3 linked regions of the Homo sapiens genome follow. The protein of the gene in region 3 interacts with the protein of the main gene of each other region in a biochemical or structural test. Each region holds a gene or a part of one and is shown on either strand. Other genes may lie near its edges.

The links.
Region 1: the proteins of TAX1BP1 (region 3) and MYO6 form a complex in vitro, tested with the Homo sapiens proteins (5 studies listed by BioGRID, with this or other methods).
Region 2: of the proteins of TAX1BP1 (region 3) and CHUK, one has a biochemical effect on the other in vitro, tested with the Homo sapiens proteins (one study listed by IntAct).

Annotation. Positions count from the first base shown.
Region 1 is NC_000006.12:75,913,239-75,920,037, reverse strand, and holds the end of MYO6 (unconventional myosin-VI), read right to left. Parts: intron 5,976-6,799; coding exon 5,757-5,975; intron 5,226-5,756; coding exon 5,026-5,225; 3' UTR 501-5,025; downstream 1-500. UniProt on the Homo sapiens protein: Myosins are actin-based motor molecules with ATPase activity. Unconventional myosins serve in intracellular movements. Myosin 6 is a reverse-direction motor protein that moves towards the minus-end of actin filaments.
Region 2 is NC_000010.11:100,198,597-100,205,596, forward strand, and holds part of CHUK (inhibitor of nuclear factor kappa-B kinase subunit alpha), read right to left. Parts: intron 6,604-7,000; coding exon 6,480-6,603; intron 6,062-6,479; coding exon 5,910-6,061; intron 3,554-5,909; coding exon 3,492-3,553; intron 2,185-3,491; coding exon 2,075-2,184; intron 1,425-2,074; coding exon 1,375-1,424; intron 573-1,374; coding exon of another isoform or gene 505-572; exon of another isoform or gene 1-504.
Region 3 is NC_000007.14:27,735,093-27,743,456, reverse strand, and holds the start of TAX1BP1 (tax1-binding protein 1), read right to left. Parts: upstream 3,296-8,364; 5' UTR 3,188-3,295; exon of another isoform or gene 2,782-3,187; intron 1-2,781.

The sequences.
Region 1 (6,799 bases), on a different chromosome or scaffold from region 3:
GGAAGAGCTGATGAGGTGAGATGGACAGAGTCTCCTTCCACTCTCAGAGGACCCAGCAGGATCATGGTAGGTTCTTGACACAGGGAATGGACCAGCTATATTCAAGGCCTTAGGGAGAAGGAGCCTTCTTTTGGTCCCCAGTTTTTACATCCTGTGTCTTCTCACAGATTAGTAACGGTCTGGAGAAAGGCAGCCAAAATTTGGTGTGTCTCTAATCTCTACAAAATGAGTAGCTGTCACTCACACAGAATCCTGCCTGTTTCCTGGATGGAGATCACATAGGAAATTTGGGGCCTATGTCCAAAGAAGTTTCAATCACCTTGAGTTCCTTGCTTCTTCCTGCAGCCACCTAACACAGTGCTTCCAGCCCTAGCGACTGGATCAAGCTTCAGGAGCCCAGAATTCGCCAACTTATTCCATCTGAAACACGGCAATAAGTGCAACATTTACAACCTGTTCATGACACCCTGTAATGGTATTAAAAGCACAAGATGCAAGTGGAAATTCTACACAGGGAGCATTTATTTATTTGTATTTCCAGTACATCAATTTTTAGAGAAAGCATTAGATATACACTTTTAATGAAATGAGGAAAAATTAATTGACAGTTTGACTAGATGAATTTTCATAAGTAAAAAGAAAACACCCAACTAATAAGCCTGTGATTTAAAGGTGAGATGCTACTTGGTACAAATTAGGATTGAATGTGTAGATATGGACATAAAGAGTGGAATAACCGACATTGGAGACTCCAGAAAGTGGGAGGCTGAGAAAAGGTTTAGGGATGAAAAATTACCTACTGGGCACAATGTATGCTTCTCTGGGTGTTAGGTACACTAAAAGCCCACATTTTACCACTATGCAATATACCCATGTAACAAAACTGCACTTGTACCCCCTAAATCTATTTTATTTTTTGAGATGGAATTTCGCTCTTGTTGCCCAGGATGGAGTGCAATGGCGCCATCTCGGCTCCCTGCAACCTCTGCCTCCCGCGTTCAAGTGATTCTCCTGCCTCAGCCTCCCAAGTAGCAGGGATTACAGGCACCCACTACCACGCCTGGCTAATGTTTTGTATTTTTAGTAGAGACAGGGTTTCACCATGTTGGCCAGGCTGGTCTCGAAGTCTTGACCTCGTGATCCACCCGCCTCGGCCTCCCAAAGTGCTGGGATTACAGGCGTGAGCCACCGCGCCCAGCCCTAAATCTATTTTTAAAAAAACAAATTTGTACTGAAGATTCTCCTTTTGAATGTGCATTAATTTTTCCTGATCATCTCTTGAAAAACTTCTGAGACAGCTAAGCTTGTTTCATATATTAGGTTAGCAATGGGGAAAGAATACAGTGATTTGAATTGAACTAAAGCGTACTCAGAGAAGTGCTCCCAGCAGAGTAGGTGCTACTTCTGCCAGTCTCTCCATCTTACCCTTCCATGAGGCTTATGTACAGAATGCCTATTTACTGCTGACCTTCTCCAGTATGGCAGTGCCATTCCTATGTGCTAAGAATGTATACACCGGGCATATCTTGATCCAAGTTTTAATAACCATACGTTCTGATCCTATAAATTACACATTATTCATTCTAAAATTTCGTAGAGATCTAGGAGTGCTCTGTGTCCTAAAATGTATCAGTGTTTCCAAACTGGGGGTGCAGAATCTTTAGGGGCACACAACCTGTCTCTTCCACTGTTGCTCTTCTCTTTCCTTATTGTTACAACTGTTTCCCCCCCTCTAACATGTCCTTATTCTCATGTTTAGATATCCTTTGCCCTCCCCTTCCATCCTTGTTAGTTTATCTTCTGGGAGAAATTTTAAAACTCTCAATACTTGTTATTATTGGTAATGATAAATAGGGAAAACCTGTCACACCTTCTGAAGTTGTGGAATGACAGAGAGGCAACCCTTTGTAAATCCACAGGTGCCACTAAAAAGTGTTTGTTTTGGTTCTTTTTGTTACATATGATTGCAGCAAAGGCTTTGATATATTTTTCAGTCTACAACTAAATTACTTGACCTCTCTGGATCTGTTACCTCTTCCATAAAAGGAGGCAGGTCTATCACTAACATCATATTAATTGGCTGACTGATTGATTCAATAAATATTTATTCTACTGATCCAAGTACTCTTAAGCTACTTCAGGTAAAAAAAAAAACCAATGATCTACATATTTGGATCGCTGAGAACCATAGTAATGACCTGTGAATGAAAATGTCTTTTAAAAAATATCCAATTAATAAAGCTCTACAAACAATACCATTATTCTTGCCTGTGGATTGCTATTCTCTAAGTGTTCACAACCACCACTGATTTTCCACTTAAGATGTTCTTTCCTTGGTTGCTTGCAAAACAAAATGGTTCACAAGAATGACCTATGAAAAGTCATTACAGAAGCAGAATGAGCATAACAATAGAATGCCTTTGTGTGGCCCTGTGCTCCTACATGCACTGTTTTGTTTCTTCCTCATATTTTCACAATCCTCTGAGAAGGTGCCATCTCCCCAACTTTACAACTAAGAAAACTCAATATTCTCTTAACATACGTGGATTAGAGTAACTTCCTTTTCTCAATTAGTTCCCATAACTCATAATACATATCTCAACTGTGTTACCACAATTAGGAATTATATTAAAATTGAATCAAATGTGAAAACATTCTGTCCTCTCATTTTAAATATTTTATGCATGCTGCCTTTGCAAAGCATATGCTATGGAAAGAACTGGTATTAAGAAAAGATTAGTTCTTTATATATAGTGGTTTAAACTTCTAATTTTAAATCTCAGTTAAAATGATTAAAATATGAGTGAATTTACTTTTGATTTCCACAGTTTTAACCTGGCATGCATGGGCTTGACTGTGAACATGGTAAAGCAGCTGCATGAACATCATTTAGGACACCACTCCTGCTGTTTCCTTTAAAAGGCTGACAGGGTCCTAAGTTTCTCCAGCAAAGGGGTGTCTGTGTGTATGTGCATCTACTGTACGTAGGTTACTGTAAATCTATCTGAATTAGGGCAGTTGCCCTGCTGGCCAAAATTAACTCAGGAAACTATTTTAAATAGATAAGTTCTAGGACAGCTGTGTGACATGATTAGAAACATTATGGCTTAAGATTAACTATAATTGTATTAACTATTAGAGTCAAAAACTAAGGACTTATAACAACCCTTTGCTGTGATACATTTCTTACAAATTTCTGAAACATTAGATTCTCTCATTTAAATATGTTTAACTCTTTAATTTTCCATCTAGTGCCTATTAATGTATCTAAAAGATACACAAAACTATTGTACTAAAGAGACATGTCATTAAAAAACAATTTGGCTACTAAATTTTGTTCAAGAACTTTACTCACTACTGGTTAGGAAAAAAGCTTATCATTCACTATCCTACACAAATAAAAACACCAGTTAAAGGCGAGAGATGGAAGAGAGAGAATAGGTCATTTACTTCAGTAGCTACACCTTCTGTCCCCAATCACAGGGACGAAATGACCCGAGGGTGGGTGAAGCTATGCAGTAATACAGCCTTCAAAAGATAATCACATTTGCATTCTCAATAGCACAGACACAACCATTTAATTTAACTTGACAATCATTTGAATGTATCATAATAAATAAATATTTCTCTACTAAGACATGAGAGAAGCAATTCTGAAGACAGTGTCTGTGGCTCACAAACACTAGTCAGCTGGGAAATACTTCCCTAACTGAGGTAATCTTTCTAGGGAAAAAAGAAATCACTGGAATTTCATTTCAAAGGTTAGGGTCTCTAAAAACTGGGGGAAAAAGCAGTACAGAGAATCATTTTACTTTATAATTTTATTCTAAAATACAACAAAACTCCTTAGAATTATGTCAGCATAACTCCTTGATGTATTTTTGTCTTTAAATTCCAAATGTGAAAGTCATAAATATTAGGCTTAAAGCTGCTGACATTTGAATCAATACTAACAGCACACAAAGAAAACATTTTAAAATTATCAGTTATGTAAAACAAGCACTTACTAAATACAAGGATTTCTGAATTACAAAGCTTATGAAACAGGTCTACAATTACCAAAACCTCAAAGGCCAAAAAAGACACTAGGAATTTCTTAAAAAGAAAGATGTTGGAAGCAGAACACTTACTAAATCAATGAAACAACTTGGACAAGATTCTGATACAAAAATCACTATTGAGATGAAGTTGAAAGAATATTTGAATTCAGTCCAGTTAAGCCACTATGCCACCTAAAACCTATTTCCTTTTCTAATTGAAACAAAACTTATCTCAAAACTTTTAGGCATTTAAACAATCTGAATTTCCTTTATTTTTCCACAGAATATAAAAAGAATATTCTGACAGCAACACACATTGTGCTAGCAAAGAAAAGCAAATCTGTGCTGGATACTATTAGTACCTCTTATCACAGAATACATCAAATACATTAAGGCTCTTTCTAGAATTCTAGAACTTCGAAGTGTTTCATTCAAACTAAGACACTGCAAAGGAGGAAAAAAATAGATTTTCCACCTTTAATGGAAATTTCCAAAAATGTCTGAAAATGTCTATAAAGTACACAGCTTTTCAGACCAAAACATTAGTGCCTTGATCATTTTAAGTGGTTTAGTTATTGTAAGAATGTAAGCTCATGTTTTATTACTCCAGTTATATGGTACTGTGCCATCCTTAAAAAGTATTTTGAATTTTGAAAAAAGTTCTCTTTTCCTAGAGAACAATTACGATGGATGTAAGGTAGTCTTCTGGCAAAGGATGAGAAACATCAGAATATGCCCATGTGTAATAGTTAGAGAATAATGAGAGTTTTGGGAATTACAGCGGGATACAGAAAAATAATGTTTAGGTCCAAAATTTGCTACCATAATTAACCTTAAACAAATTCACCAAAAGCCGTGATTAATAAAATCTGTTCACTTTATAGAAGTAACTCTAACATGATTATGGAATGGTTAAATCTGGGGGCACACACCCTACCTAAGTACCATGGCAAAGGCTCCCAGCTGTAAGGCTGGTGTGCAACATCTACTTTAACAGACTCTGCAGCATGGCTGTTGCATAGGTGGGCCGAGCCTGTCTGCTCTCAATCGCATTCTGAAGGTACTGGATGCCTCCACAGCGTTCCCAGATTTCTTCAAACTGTCTTGGCAAGATCTCAGCACCACGCTTCCGAGTCAGGCCAGTCTCCTCAAGATTCAGCTCACACATCTCCATGTCGTCCTTACCTGTATTCATGAGATATCAGAAAATTACCATCTCTCTCTTCAGGACCATTTCTTACCAGTTGTATGCCTGAAATACCTATTAATTCTCATAGATTTGAAAACTTCCTAAGACTTTTTCTCTAAGATGGAAATCTGCTTAATAAAATCACCAGAAACAATTAAAATTTGTCCCCCATCAAGGACCCTTTCAATATTAATAAACACTGCTATTGATCAAACAAGTTACCAGAGTTAATAAAAATGCTACATTTCCTCAAGCCACTACAAATCAATGGATATGATGAAACACAAATGGAAAGGTTTTTAGGATACAGACAAGTTTCTATGTGCTAAGAACATAATTTAATCCAAGCAATTTCACATTATAAATGAGTTAATCCTCACTGAACTGGAAATGTGATTTAACCGCAAGACTCCATCCCTCAACCCTGAAATGTAATAAATTATTATATTATACATTAGAATGTTTCATTCAGAGAGTTTATGATCTTTTTTGTTCTATAATTTGTTTTCCATGTGAATCATACACACCAGCCACAAGTAGGATGGGTGGCTTGTCAGGATGGAGTTCCATTTGCCGGGCAATCCATGGTCCATCAAAATGGGCATACCACCAGCCTTTTTTCTTACTCTGAGGGTCTTTGTACTGGTCGGCAGGGCGGATGAATGGGATGCGGAAGAAGCGTTGCTGTCGGTTCATTTCAATCTCCCGCTGCCTGGCAGGAATCTGAGCTGCTGGGTTTTGCTGAGCTATTACACAGAACAAGGAAAGTTATACCAGCAGCTCAAGGGAAAAGAAAAGAGCCTTTAATCCTAAAATATACCCCAATAATTTTTTAAAAAGAAGAAAGGTCCCTAATAGTAAATTTAAAACAAAATGAAAATATTTATTGCCTACAAATTAATAAAATTCAGAGTGTTACTTCTTAGAATTGTCTTTCCCTTAAGATGTTTCTTAGCATTGCCAACACAAACACACACATACCACTACCACCACCACTACCAGCAACAAACCCCTGTCAGATTCCCACAAATCACTGTAACAGTAACCTAAAATAAACTCACACGGCAGGAAAACAAACTACTATTATTTACTAGATTTATATTCTTCCTGTAAAGAGTTCAAATTTGTACAGTAACTTTTATTCAACTATTTATGATAGAACAAAATAAACAGTAATTTCAAAAATCTGAAGGATGTAGACATTTGTCAGTTTAATCACTATTTCCACAAAAAGTAGAAGCCATATAAAAATTTTTTCTTTTGCCAACAAATTTTAGGATTTAAAATGACCACAATGACATAGATATTAACAACATTTAGACAACCATATGACAAAAAAAACCTTATAACAGTAAGCATAAACTTTCCCTTAAAGATATTTACTTACTCTGAAATCAGATTTCTCTTAGAATAAAATCCAATGAAGTGCAAAGTATGTAACATTTGATTCTCCTTGCCAAAAGAAAAGAAAAATCCTTGCTTTTCTACTAGTACTGGGCATTTCATTCATATCAATCTTTCATTCCTAGCTCAATTTTCATTACTTAACAATTAGGTTTTTCTTTTATCT
Region 2 (7,000 bases), on a different chromosome or scaffold from region 3:
TCACAGACTCTCTGACAAAGTTTCAAGGATTCTCACAGGTCCATATGCCACATTTTGAGAACTGCTGGTCAGACTAAACTGAATACATTTCAGTAAAATAAAAGCAGTATAAGAGGAGATAATGTTATTTTTTAAATGTGAAAATAGTATATGAAATACAATTTCACATGTATATTAATTTGCATGTGTTGCTATGTGTCTACAAATTTTAAAGTGTAAAAGTATATCTTTTTTTAACATGCATTTAAGTATAATGCACATTAGGGCACAGACTTTATTTCTTCTGTTACCCTTCAAAACAAATTTTTAACTAAATGATAATATCTTGCAAGTACATAATAGTTTATAGTTTTCAAAGCATTTTCACAAACATCCTCTTAAATACACTGTCACAATATACTCACTGAGTAGGAAAGCTAGGTTTCAACCCCATTTTGCAGAAGAAGGAAATGGGAAACGCAGATTTGCCTGAGGTAACGGTCAGTAAATTACTCAATCTAGAATTCAAGCCTCTGATTCCCCATCCAGTACTCTTTCCAGCAGACCTTGCTCAGTATTTAGCAGATGTTCAACTGGAATTATTTTGCCAACAAAACAAGTCATCAGTGACCAGTGCAGATGAAGGCATTATTTTCAAAGCAATCTGCTTTGGCCTAGAACAGCACAGGCCTTCCCTCTAACCATTCCATACCTGAACCCACTGCCTCAAATTCTTTCCAACCTCTATAATATTTTTTTGTTTTGTTTTGAGACAGAATCTCGCTCTGTCACCCAGGCTGGAGTGCAGTGGTGTGATCTTGGCTCACTGCAACCTCCTCTTCCCAGGTTCAAGCGATTCTCCTGCCTCATCCTCCCAAGTAGCTGGGATTACAGGCACATGCCAACATGCCCAGCTAACTTTTCTATTTTTAGTAGAGATGGGGTTTCACCATGTTGGCCAAGCTGGTTTTGAACTCCTGACCTCAGGTGATCCACCCACCTTGGCCTCCCAAAGTGCTGGGATTACAGGCATGAGCCACCACAACTGGCCCAACCTCTCTAATCTTAAGCAACACTTATTTTTTCCATCTTTCTAAACATTTTCTTGCTGCTTTTTCCTCTCTGAGTTCCTTTTTTCTGTCTTCCATTCTTTCTTTTCACGTCCCCTTCTAAAATTTTTCTACCTCACGTTCTCTGTTACTTTCTCTTTATCATCTCCTAAATTCTCACAATCTTAAAGCTTATTATACCATGTCTCAATGGCAATACCAAAACTGGAATTTATTCTGCAGCTTTAAGAAAATTTTTAACTTAAAAATATTAGATCCCCCACATTTGTTAGGCTAGTGATAGTTACCTAAAATGCCTTCAAGCACTGTGGTAGAAGTGTCTTACCTGAAGGTCTGTGTTTTAACTGCTTATATAGATCAATGGCACGCTGTTCCCTATAAAAGAGAAAACACGCTCTGATAAGTGAAGGTAATTTAATGACTTCAATAATCTACAACTTGAAACAATATTTTATTTGAATAATGAACCCATTTTAAAGCAAGTTCATATTGCCAACAAGTATTTCACAGAGCATTGTATTGAGTAATAAGAACTATACAAGTTCTTAAAATGCAAAGTTTAATATAGTTCATATCTATTCTGATCTATCATGGGGACATCTCTGCACCACAGACACTTAAAAAGACAAAAATTATGACCTATAATTCGAGAAAATATCTGAAGTTTTTAATCCAGAACTTTAATTCAGAAAAAATTTCAAGTTTTAGGGCATTTAAGAGTCAATACCTTGGACCAGAGGTATAATGAGTAGGGAAATAGTTTGTAACTTAGTTATACTTGGAAAATTCTTAACACTCCTATGAAATAAATGCTTTTATTAAAAACCAAAAAAGGCCAACCCAAAGAATTATTTCCGAAGTTTCCTGTGACTGAGAAAAAGCTTCCATTTTAAATATAATGCCAATATATTTGGGGAAAGGAAAACTATAGAAAAGAACCACTAGAGGTTTAATTTGCCAGATGTAAGCAGAAAGAATACAAAATATTACAGATGTCAAGACCAACAACACAAGTGCATCCTTACAGAGATTCCATCAAGTCTCCCTGACGTCTTCCATAGGGGCTCTTCTGTAGCTCCATGATTTCAGCATGCAAAGACATAATCTGATCCTCCAGGTATCCAATGACACCAACCTAAAATATGATGAAAATACAAAGGAAATGAAAGGCTTACCACTACATCATAGGAAACAAAATTCAGATCTTAAGGATACAGAATGACTTGCTGCTTCATTAGAGAACTAAATAATATAATACGAAACACTGATTTTGTTAAAGCCTTTCTATTCTTCAGATTCTGACACTTAATCTTTCACATAAGAACATACTTAGTCTTAGTCTTCTCTCTTTTCTCTCCTGACAACAGTAAACTACTAGTATTTGCTTTTACCTCCGGAGAAGCAAAAAGCTACAACAGGTATCAACTAACAAGAAAGAAAAAGGACCACCAAAACCATTGGTATTACTTGTATCTTGGCTCTATGATTTTGACTGCCCCCTGGTCCCCACTACCTTGAATAGGGACACAAAAAGATAAAGAACTTGGATTTCCCACCCCAGGACACCATGGGTATCCCCACCCACATCCTCAGGGTAAGTACTGACATTAAGGAGTGTAATAACTTAGGACCGTGGACAAATGTACAGGATAAGGGGAAAAAATCTGCCACCTAGAGAATGAGCTATACCTAGGGACACCATATAATTTATTGTCCAAACCGGCATAATTTTGAGAGTGAAAGGGACTACTACTGATAATTATGGCAAGACATTAAGTATAAACTGGGACAGTCCCAGGTAAACCAGGATGTGCAGCCATCCTATCTAAACCAGTCACAAAAATAATAGTGACAACTACCATTACTGACTCCCATTTAATCTTCATAACCCTACTAGAAAAGAAATTGTCCCTATAATATGGAAACTAGCTGGATGTGGTGGCTCATGCCTATAATCCCAGCTCTATGGGAGGCTGAGGTGGGAGGATTGCTTAAGCCCAGGAGTTTGATACAAGCCTGGACAACATAGTGAGACCCCGTCTCTACAAAAAATGTAAAAGTTAGCCAGGCATGGTGGTGCACCTCTTGTCCCAGCTACACAGGAGGCTAAGATGGGAGGACTGCTTGAGCCTGGGAAGTCGAGGCTGCAGTGAGCTTTGATCATGCCACTACACTCCAACCTGGGCAACAGAGTGAGACCCTGTTTCAAAAAATAAATAAATAAAGGAAACTGAAGCTCAGTGAGGCACTAGGTAATTTTCCCAAAGCCCTTGTTTTTAATCACTATGATACATCCCTCTTTATATACAAAGCATCTACTAGAATTTTGTCTGAATTTCAGGAATGACATGAAAAATGCTCTTTATATATCAAAACCAAAGATAGTTTCTAATGGAGACATCAAGAATTAATAAGTATACAGAATGACGTCAATGATTTTACCTCAGCATAGTGGATGGCCTTTTCTTCCATTTCTTTCCATGCTTTTAGCATTTTTTCTGAAGCTAAAAGAAAAGTCTAAATTGGTTATCTCAGAAATAGCCATATCTTTAATTACTGGCTGCCTGCCTCCTTGCCATATCAACATCAAAGATGTGTTATGAGTTGAATTGTGGTCCCCCAAAAGATATGTGGAATTCCTAACCCCTAATACCTCAGAATGTGACCTATTTGGAAATAAGGTCATTACAGAAGTAATCAGATAAATTAATACTCATACTGGAATGGTCTGGGCCCTTAGTCCAGTACGACCAGTGTACTTAGAAGAGACACAGGATACAGATACACAGGGGAGAATGCTCTGTGACAATGGAGACAGATTGAGGTGCTGCAGCTGTAAGCCAAGGAATGCCAATGATGGCTAGCAGACCATAAGAAGCTAGAGAGAAACAAGGAAAGATTCTTCTCTACAGATTTCAGAGAAAACATGGCCCTGCCAACACCTCAATTTTGGACTTTTAGCCTCCAGGGCTGTGAGACAGTAAGTTTCCATTGCTTAAGCCACTCAGTTTATGGGATTTTGTTATGGAACCCTTAGGAAATGAATACAGATGACTTTTTTCTTAAAAATATATATATTTATACCAGTGTGCAGATGGGTGGATAAAGGAAAAAACAACAAAAAAAATTTTTTTTTGAGGTAGAGTCTCACTCTGTCACCCAGGCTGGAGTGCAGTGGCATGATCTCAGCTCACCGCAACCTCTATCTCCAGGGCTCAAGCGATCCTCCCACCTTAGCCTCCTGAATAGCTGAGGTGTGCACCACCATGCCCGGCTAATTTTTACATTTTTTGTAGAGATGGCGTTCTACCCCATGTTGCCCAGGTTAGTCTTGAATTCCTGAGCTCAAGGGATCCACCTGCTTTGGCCTCCCAAAGTGTTGGGATTACAGGCGTGAGTCACCACCTGGCCAGAAAAGAAATTTAATACTTGAATATGATTTTTAAAAATTAAATACTATAAAAGGATATAAACAGAAAAGACTCTCTCTTCTACCCCTCTACCATCCACCTCAAGGGACCTTACTATGATTATCTGTTACATAGACACATAGCCTGCTCCCTCACAAGTGAAAACATCTGTATACTCTTTATTTTTTCCCACAATTTAAAACTGTCAACTAAAGACTTAGGTGATCTTTTAATAAAAGCACATATAGATCTACCTCATTTTTCTTTAACAATTGTATAATAAGCCTTTGACAAGTCTAAGATATTTTAATGAAATAATTATAATGTTTTATCACTCACCAGAATGTCAATAATATACAAATAGAAATAAAATATCAATAATATATAAATAGAAATAAAATATCAATAATATTAATAAAACCAGTTCTGGAGAGTAAATTCATTCACCCAACTGGACACTATTGATTGTTTACTCTGAGATACACAGAGTTTGCTCAGGACAAGTATATGTTTTTAGGAAACAAGTATTTGTTTCCTAAAAAGGATTTGTTTTATAAAAGAAAACAGAAATGCTGGTAGTATGACTCCTTCAATTTACTCATATTTTAACTCTGTTTTTTTACACTTCCTTAGTACATCTGAAGGAGATAAGCTTGGAGTCAAATATGGAAAATTTGGAGACTGTGTACACTAAAAAATAGTAGGACTCCACAGTAGATGGTTTGAAAAAAACATAGCCTTAGAATATTTGTGTCATTATTTACAGAAAAGTAAGCAGTTTAAGACTCCCCTGGTTGTCTTAGTCCATTTGGACTACTATAACAAAATACCATAGACTAAGTGCCATAAAAACAACAGAAATTTATTTCTTATAGTTCTGGAGGCTGGGAAGTCCAAGAACAAGGCAGATTTGAGGGCCTGCTTTCTGGTTCCTAGATGACCATCTTCTTGCTCTGTCCTCACATGCAGAAGGGATGAGGGATCTCATTCAGGTCTCTTTTGTAAGAGCATTAATCCCAAACAGGAAGGCTCTACTCTCATGACCTAATCACTTCCCAAAGGCTCCACCTACCAACACCTTCACCTTCAGGGTCAGAATTTCAACATATGTATTTTGGGGGGGATACATTCAGTCCACAGCACTGGCTAAGAAGTCCAGATTTTGTATTTATTTTAAAATCAGGTTTGAAATTCAAGATTATTAAATCGCACCTGTATTTTTTTAGAGCTAAATAATTTTAGCCCAATTGTGAAGCTAAATTGCTCAACTAAGCAAATTTAAAAAAAGAGGTAACATTCAAAACAAACATGGTTTATGTTAATTTAAGTTGTCCTGTCTCTTGTTCTAATGTGAAGGTAAGTAAAACAACTGGCTGAGTTAAGAAGGCAAAATAACAGATGGCTTCAAGAAACCAGATGCTCCTTTCAAATACATTACACAGACACTTACATATCCCATACGTCATCTGCTCGCTGTATCTCTCCAAGTCAAGCTGAATGCTTTTGTGAAAAAACTCCAATTTAGCTTTCAGTTGTTGTGATGCTGAGATCAAAGTGTTCTTCATTTTTGTTAAGTTAGCATTATATCTAAGAAGACTTAACCTAAACCACAGCAAGAAAAAAAAGAAAAAGAAAAAAGATATTATCAGCATTCAGAAACATTGAACAATAATGTAAAAACATAAACTGCCACAAGGCCAAAGCCTAAGTTTCTATTATCAATCTATGAGAAATAACTGAGCTCTAGAATCTGATCTCTAAAGACTTCCTGCCTATAATATTTTGTGATAAACAATCTTTTTATACTAGGACCGTATGGGAATTATTACCCTCAAGCCATTACAATAGAATGGTCTCAGTCCATTAGTAAGAATTCTACAAGTTTATCAGAACATTACACTTCAAATTGGCCCAGTATGTTACTATTACATGCAATATTGATTAGTGAAAACCGGCAAGATTAATTCTTGAGTATATGATGCACATTGCATTGTGCTTATAAACAACAGAATCCACTTACATTGCTGCCCTTTGTCCCTGAAAGAGCCTGCTATAGTCTTCTTTTAGTCCAGACACATAGTGCACTGCTTCAGCCCACACTTTACGCAGCTGTATAATTGGAAGCTGTATTTTGCTGTCCTGTACTATATACAAGAAGATGAGAAAAAGGGCAAGGGAGGTTAGTTACTTTTGAGGATTTTAGAGTTGATTTATCATTCTTTGTGATTTCCTGTCCACACAAACAGGATTCCCATAGATGCTAGAAACTGATGCTAAAAGAACCACTTGTTTCCATTTAATTCAGTTCAATATACATTTACAGAGCACCTGCAATACTTAAGCCCCGCTCCACATACAAGGGGGGAAATAAAAATGACACAATCGCTACACTCACAGAGCTTGAGATTATTCCTGTATCTGTCTTTTTTGCTTGCTTTTCTGCAACCTGGAATACTCTTTTTCTCTCTGCTAATCCAAATTATTTCTTTCAAGTTCTAAATCAAGTCCCATCTCCTCTGAGTCTTTCCTACCTCTGAATAA
Region 3 (8,364 bases):
CTGAAAGTTTTTCACATCTTCAGCTAAAAAACCTTTAGAATTATCTCCAAACTTTAATCCGATAGGACACACAAACATATGAAAGGAAAAAATGTCCAGCATTCAAATAGTTTCCAATTATTCACACTGTGGCTCAAAAAAAGAAAGACTAACAACTCTCAACAGACCTCTGCTCCCAAAAAATGTAATCAGCAATTTTTCTAGGAGGCAACAGCAAAAGCCCCAGTCTATTAATTTGCACCCTTGCAGACATCCCTATTTCCAGAATCCTTTACACCTGAGTGCCAAGACATTCCGCCCAGGTATCACCCGCACCACTTTTATTTACTTTTTAGATTTTTATAAGTTGGTTTCTAAAATGCTATGATATTGGCCCACACATATTAGGGTAGAGGACATTTTTATCTTCTTCTAAAGGTTTATTTGGGACAAAATAAGCTTTAAAAAGACAGAAATGCATAAAGCCCAGATTTAACATATCCATTCCAAAAGAATACAACAAAGTCCCCAAAAGAAGTATACAAGGAGCATCATTAGGATCTTTCATGATTATTTTAACATTATTAAAAAGGTTGAAACTTTGAATTCCAAAATTTTACTTTTGTTATGGAAAAGGTATTTGCTGGTTAATTCTACAAACATGGCTGCAGTGAGAACTATAAACAGCGGTCTACAATTTAAGAACGTGATGGGCTGGGTGCGGTGGCTCACACCTGTAATCCCAGCACTTTGGAAGGCCGAGGCAGGCGGATCAAGAGGTCAGGAGTTCGACACTAGCCTGACCAACATGGAGAAACCTCGTCTCTACTAAAAATACAAAAATTTGCCGGGTATGTGTGGGGAAAAGCAAGAGAGATCAGACTGTTACTGTGTCTGTGTAGAAAGAAGTAGACATAGGAGACTCCATTTTGTTCTGTACTAAGAAAAATTATTCTGCCTTGAGATTCTGTTAATCTATGACCTTACCACCAACCCCGTGCTCTCTGAAACATGTGCTGTGTCAAACTCACGGTTAAACGGATTAAGGGTTGTGCAAGATGTGCTCTGTTAAACAGATGCTTGAAGGCAGCATGCTCCTTAAGAGTCATCACCACTCCCTAATCTCAAGTACCCAGGGACACAAAAACTGTGGAAGCCTGCAGGGACCTCTGCCTAGGAAAGCCAGGTATTGTCCAAGGTTTCTCCCCATGTGATAGTCTGAAATATGGCCTCGTGGGAAGGGAAAGACCTGACCATCCCCCAGCCCGACATCCGTAAAGGGTCTGTGCTGAGGAGGATTAGTATAAGAGGAAGGCATGCCTCTTGCAGTTGAGACAAGAGGAAGGCATCTGTCTCCTGCCCGTCCCTGGGCATGGAATGTCTCAGTATAAAACCCGATTGTACGTTCCATCTACTGAGATAGGGAAAAACCGCCTTAGGGCTGGAGGTGGGACATGTGGGCAGCAATACTGCTTTGTAAAGCATTGAGATGTTTATGTGTATGCATATCTAAAAGCACAGCACTTGATTCTTTACCTTGTCTATGATGCAAAGACCTTTGTTCACGTGTTTGTCTGCTGACCCTCTCCCCACTATTGTCTTGTGACCCTGACATAGCCCCCTCTCGGAGAAACACCCACAAATGATCAATAAATACTAAGGGAACTCAGAGGCTGGCGGGATCCTCCATATGCTGAACGCTGGTTCCCCGGATCCCCTTATTTCTTTCTCTGTACTTTGTGTCTTTTTCTTTTCCAAGTCTCTCATTCCACCTAACGAGAAACACCCACAGGTGTGGAGGGGCAACCCACCCCTTCAGTGTGGTGGTGCGCGCCTGTAATCCCAGGTACTCAGGAGGCTGAGGCAGGAGAATCGCTTGAACCTGGGAGGCGGAGGTTGCAATGAGCCGCGATCGCGCCACTGCACTCCAGCCTGGGAGACAGAGCAAGACTCCATCTCAAGGAAAAAAAAAAAAAAAGAACGTGATGACTAGAAAACAAAAACTACAATGTTCTTTGAAGTTGAACAATCAGTTTGAAAAATAAATAAAACCTTATTAGAAGTCGGCATCATCAAACAATCCTTCAAGTTTACCCTTGAAAGGAACAGAACGAAAGAGAAAGGCTGTCCTAAGCTCCTTCCCTAAACCCGAAAAGCACTTTGAGGACGATCGACCCACTTTTAGTTTCTATTCAAATGATCTCTTTAAATCCTTTAGGAATTGAGCACCAAACTTGTAACTATTAATTGTTCGTGCACAGCTCGTAGAAATTTTAACATTAGCAGAATGCAGACAGCTGAAAAATCAAGATTTATTTTCCCATCTAAAGCCTAACATAATAGCAATTCATAACCACTGTGTGAAACCGGAAATCTAACACTGTGTATGTCTAAAGTCAAATGCCAGTGTTTTCTAACAAAACTTTTACCAATAAGGTGTGTACACACACCCACACAGACGCACGCTAAGCTCAATTTTTTACTAATAAGGTGTACGCGCGCGCGCGCACGCTAAACTCTAGCCACAGATTCCCTAAGCCAGGAGTGCAAGTCGGTCGGGACTAGTCCACACCTTGCGAACGGGGCGGGGTGGGGAATGGATTCCAGGTGAAGCAGGCCATCAGCCAGAACCGCCAACTCCGCCCGCGGCCCTCAAAAGTAGGCGGCGCAGGGAGTCTCCGCCCCCTTCGCCACCGGCGACTCAAACCAAAACAGCTGGGTTTCTCTCCGCAAAGGCAAACCCCAGCGTCCTTCTCGGACGCGACCTACGTGTTTTCTCAGCTTACTGCGCCGGTAAAACCCACACTGCCCTCAAAACAGTCACCCCAGAGTTTAGCCTTGGACACCAGAAGCTTTTCCTTCGGGGGTCGCCAGCGTCACTCGTCCCCAGCCAAAGGGCCCCCGTCCCACACGCCTCCCCCAAATCGCGAAGGCCTGTCCCACGGGCCTCCCACCGCGTGGGGCGGCCACCCGTTGCCATTCCAAAACTCCACAGCTGATCCGAGTCGCCCACACCCCCGTCACAATCGCAGTCTGGAAAGGAAGGTTTGTCTTCGGGAAGGAAAGCCTCGTCACCACAGAGACCTCTCCCGAGACCGGCCAGGCCCCTACAGTACAGGGGCTGAAGGGTGTAGCACGAGCCCTAAAAGAGATGCAGCTGGAGGCCGCCCCGCACAAGGCGCTGGGGTGGACCGGGGAGGCGCCTTACCCAGTGGAAAGACTCCCGGATCAAGGGAGAAAGTTACGCAGGCTTCCGATCCTGATCCGCCATCAGCCGCCGAACCTCTTCCGCCACTACCGCCTACCCCCAAAGACCGGCTACACCTCCCCTCCCAGCCGACAGTAGGCCTTGCGTCACTTCCGCCCACGGGGCGGTCTCTTCCGCCTCCTGCCTGGTTCGCCGCTCCCCTCCGCGACGACACGCCCCCAGCCCACTCCGCCGCGGGACGCCTCATCCCGCGGGTAGGCTGGCTCTCTCCTTACTTCGTCCTTGCTATTTTCGTTCAACTTAATCGCAGCAAAACAATGCGTCTGGATTTACATTCTGATTTTATGTTATTATTTTGACATACGAAAGGGGGAAACACACAGGAGGTTTAAGTAACTCACCAGCGATGTGGAAAGGGCAGCTCAGAGGTCCATGGACAGTACCGTATCCCTGTCTGCGTCTCAGTCGGCCTAAACTAGCCCACTCATTTTATAGATAAGGAAATAGCCAGAGAAGCAAGGGAGTGACCACACGGCTAGGGCTGCAAACCCCTGAGCACCAAGACTGTCTCTGAACTCCTGGCCCAGTCGTGTGCTTTTTTGGCTATGAAGTTTTGTTCACTGAAAGCTCCTAGGAGCTTTTCAGTTCTAATGCCCTCTGATTCTATTTGCTCTCGCTCCAGCAGAGGCCTCTTTTCTAGCCGCATTTCTGTGAGTTACCTGCTTTTGTTATCCGTATCATTTTCCGTGTGTGAATTTTCTCCCGCGTTCTGTTATTTCTAAAATCACTTTTGCTTGTTGTATATGTTGCCTTCCTATATTGGACATTCAGTTTGAATCGTAACTCCACAGAAGCAAATGTGTCCCATTCGAATTCATCATAGTCTTCTGTTGCCGTAAAACCCTGACAAACCTTGCAATAGCACCAGAAAGGATATGTAAATTAGATCGCATTAAATGTTGAAGCACATTCTAAATACAGAACATTCAAAATTATCTTTCATATACTTTCATCTTTACTTCCAGTTATTTCAGAAGACATTAGCTTTGATAACATAGGTTCTCAATATTTACAGACTGATTTGTTTCCTGTGTATTGACATTTTTGAACTTGGTCTTGTGCTGGGTATTATACTTGATCATAGAATTTCAGAAGAACCTTAATAGGCCATTTAGTCCCAGTCTCCTTATTTTATGGATGAAGAAAACGGTGTGAATAATCAACATAAGTTATCACTTGCGTTACTGGTAGCAACCTTCTGGTAGTAGAAATAACTGTGTCCCTTAAGAAATGTAAACATAGCAGTGAATTTTATAAGCACAATTTGTCAGAGATGTCACTCTTTGTTTAAATCACATTCCTATTTATATGTAATACATTTTTAATTACCACTAATTTTCAGTTAATGAAATCAGAAAAACAGTATGCTTAATAAAAACCATAATTGAAAGACTTTTTTTTTTGCCCTGAGAGGGACGGAGTTTCGCTCTTGTTGCTCAGGCTGCAGTACAGTGGCGCGATCTCGGCTCACTGCAACCTCCGCCTCCCGGGTTCAAGCAATTCTCCTGCCTCAGCCTCCCAAGTAGCTGGGATTACAGGAGCCAGCCACCACGCCTGGCTAATTTTTGTATTTTTAGTAGAGAGGAGGTTTCGCCGTGTTGGTCAGGCTGGTCTCAAAGGACATTTTCACAGGTATTTTTACTTTGTTATTTTTAATTATTTCTTGAATTTTTAGACCTTATTTTCCCCAGGAAGGTATTTGTTCTGGAATTTTAGCTTGCTTCATTCATTTTAATAATGATCCTTTAATTTTTAGACCAAGTTTTTCCCACCAAGATAAATAGATACCCTCTTAGTATTTAATTGAATTTCTGGGTTTTGGGGGAGTAGGGTTTGGGTTTTTTGTTTGTTTGTTTTTTGAGACAGAGTCTCGCTCTGTCACCTAGGGTGTAGTGCAGTGGCATGATCTCGGGTCACTGCAACCTCCACCTCCCAGATTCAAGCAATTCTCCTGCCTCAGCCTCCCCAGTGGCTAGGATTACAGGCGCACACCACCACACTGGGCTAATTTTTATATCTTTAGTAGAGACGGGGTTTCTCCATGTTGGCCAGGCTGGTCTCCAACTCCTGACCTCAGGTGATCTGCCTGCCTCAGCCTCCCAAAGTGCTGGGATTACAAGCATGAGAGACCGCACCCGGCTTTAATTGAATTTCTTAAAGTTAGCCTCTTATTTGTATGGCAGTGGACTATGGCTAGAAGAGATATGGATTCACTTCCTTTAAGTGAAATCTTTCTGCCAGATGGATTTCAGAATTCAGAATTTTTCAGACTTTAGAGAGGTGTGCTTTATGTGACATTCCTCACTATCTGGGGCAGCACCCACAGTCAACTTTTTTTTCCGGAACAATTATGAATATCACACTAAGATAAATGAAATGTATAGTCTCACTCAAGTCAAGTTTTTCAGGTCAGGTTCTGCCACTTTGCCCTTGGGTTCAGGTCAAGTTTTAATGACAAATGAGTCAGGTCAAACAGGTTTTGCCACCAAATGTTGAGAAAACATTTGATTTTCAGAGCTTTTTCTTTTTTTTTTTTTTTTTGAGACGGGGTCTCTGCCCTCTTCCCTGTCACCCAGGCTGGAGAGCAGTGGCAAGATTTCGGCTCACTGCAACCTCTGCCTCCCAGGTTCGAGTGATTCTCCTTCTGGGATTACAGGCATGAGCCACCGCACCTGGCCAATTTTCAGAGCTTTTTAGATTTCGAAGTGGTGAATATTGAGAGAATTATTGGAAAGTAAATCAGTGAGTAACCCATGATTTTTCTGGAGCAACTACAGTGTCAAGTAGTTTCTAGGCAGTTGTCCTGTGTTTGATTGGGAAAATATGCTGACTATATTTAAAAGGCACTGTTCTTTCATTAGAGGAACTTATGATAGCAAAGGGAAGAAAAGAAATGAGCCCATGAAAATGTAGGTAACTAAAGTGTAAATGAATAGGAAGACAGATATTCAGAGATGGGAGAAAGTACAGGCTTATGTTAGCAGTACACTTTTCATGGGGGAGGCAGGCCTAGACTGTCAAAGTGAGGTATGATTTCGATGAGGAGATGGAGGAGGAGGACTTTCCAGTCAGGATTTAAGAGCTTGGGCAAGGGAATCAGGCAAGAAGAAAATTGTTAACCAAAAATAATAATTTCCTCCAAAGTTCATTCATTCACCATTGTGTCATGTCGCTTCTTAATAAGAGCATTTTGTTCATTTACTATGTGCTCTGGGAAAAACAAGGAATCAAGCATGGTTTCTTCCCTGAAACTGCTTAAAATCAGGTCAAGATGTTACCGGATGGTATAGATAACTGTCAAATTTGAAGGAAATGGACTATGAGAAATAAAGTAGAAAGATATACAGAATAATTAATTTTGAAATTAGCTAGACTTTGTAAAAGAGATTGGTCTCTAAACTTCAAAAGACTGATAAGATTTGAAAAGATGAAAAAAAGGCTTACATAGTGAGAATAATATAATTTAAAAGGCACAGATGGGACAACTAGATAGCAAAACATGGATTGAAAATTTTTGAAAAAGTTCAAATAGACATGTTTTATTAGAAACATTACAGGTTTTAAAAGCCAGGCAAATGAGTTGTTCTCCTTTCTTAGAACAATGGTTTACATTAGAATTTGTATTAAAGATTCCTTTTGTTATAAATGATTCTTAATTAAAAAGAAAAAAACACCTTTGTAAACCTTTGTTTTAAAAAGAGAGCTTTTTTTTTTTTTTAGGCAGAGTCTCACTCTTTCACCCAAGCTGGAGTGCAGTGGCGCAATCTTGGCTCACTGCAACCTCTGCCTCCCGGGTTCAAGTGATTCTCCTGCCTCAGCCTCCCAAGTAGCTGGGACTACAGGTGCATGCCACCACACCCAGATAATTTTTTTGTATTTTTAGTTGAGACGAGGTTTCACTATGTTGGCCAGGATGGTCTCAATCTAAAAAGAGAGCCTTTAAAAATGAGATTTGAATAATGGTAGGCTTTGGATAGGCAGAGAAAGAGAGGATTCCAAACACTCTAAAATAGGCTGATTTTCTCTTTCCCTGTCTGTTAGATTTTATTGATGTATTCATTGCTCCTTGTTTCCCAATCATTACCTACCTAGGTGCTTGTAACACACCTTTGCTCCTTTGAGATATACACTGTTGTGTTATGCTCCGTCTTCCCTCCCTGTGGCTGTCGTCTTCTGATCTCCAAGTCACTGTTCCTCATTCAGTGAAGAGTGTCACCTAGTGCACAGTCTCCTCCATTCTAAGCCATTCATTGTCTACTTGGATGAGATTAAAATGAAAAGGCCAACATCCCAGCATTTTAATTTCCTGAATCCCTCATCTCAAATACTCCACTCCAGATACCTATTTCTGTGGTCACACCTTGGCCCTTGCCATCATCTTGAAAAGCAAGCCTCCTACTCTTTGACCACAATCTCCTATTCTTCTAACTTGTTCATTCAAATATGCCCAGCAGAACTATTTTTCAAACTCATCAGCATCTCAATCCATTTCTTTTTTTAATACTTCCCTCAGTATCCAACTTAGAGTCCATAGCTATAATTTCATTAACACGACTTCCAACACCTTAAACTCCCTTGACTTCCTATCTTGCACATTAAGGAAAATTTCCTATAACAAATGCATTACAGACTTTGTAGTCATCACATGCTTTACACTAAAGTTTACGTCTGGAAATACTAAGCAGAAACTTTGAAGTTAAAATTGAGTGTTTTGGGAAGTTTCTTGCACTATCAAAAAGAGAAACTATAATTTATGATACTAAGAAACAGAGCCTGCAGAGGTTTATATAAGACCTTTGCCCCATTGGCTCCTAACAGTGTTCTTTGTTCCTTGTGCAACTGAAAGGTCACTAGAATGTAAATATTTTCTAACCTCTCTTCCTCATCTTACTGAGAAGAGTAATAGCCAGCAAAGTACTTTGAATTTTTAAGGTACTTATGTCAACAAGATTCTTCCTTCCCAGTGTTTCTTATTAAATACCTGTATTTTGTGAGTCACTGTGTATCAATGATAATTAAAGTTAATAAAAATTATTTTAAGGAAATGTTAAGATAATCTTCAAATGTTTAATTTTAACCAAGGCTAAATCAAAGTTTTAGGCTCAAATATGTTTTTA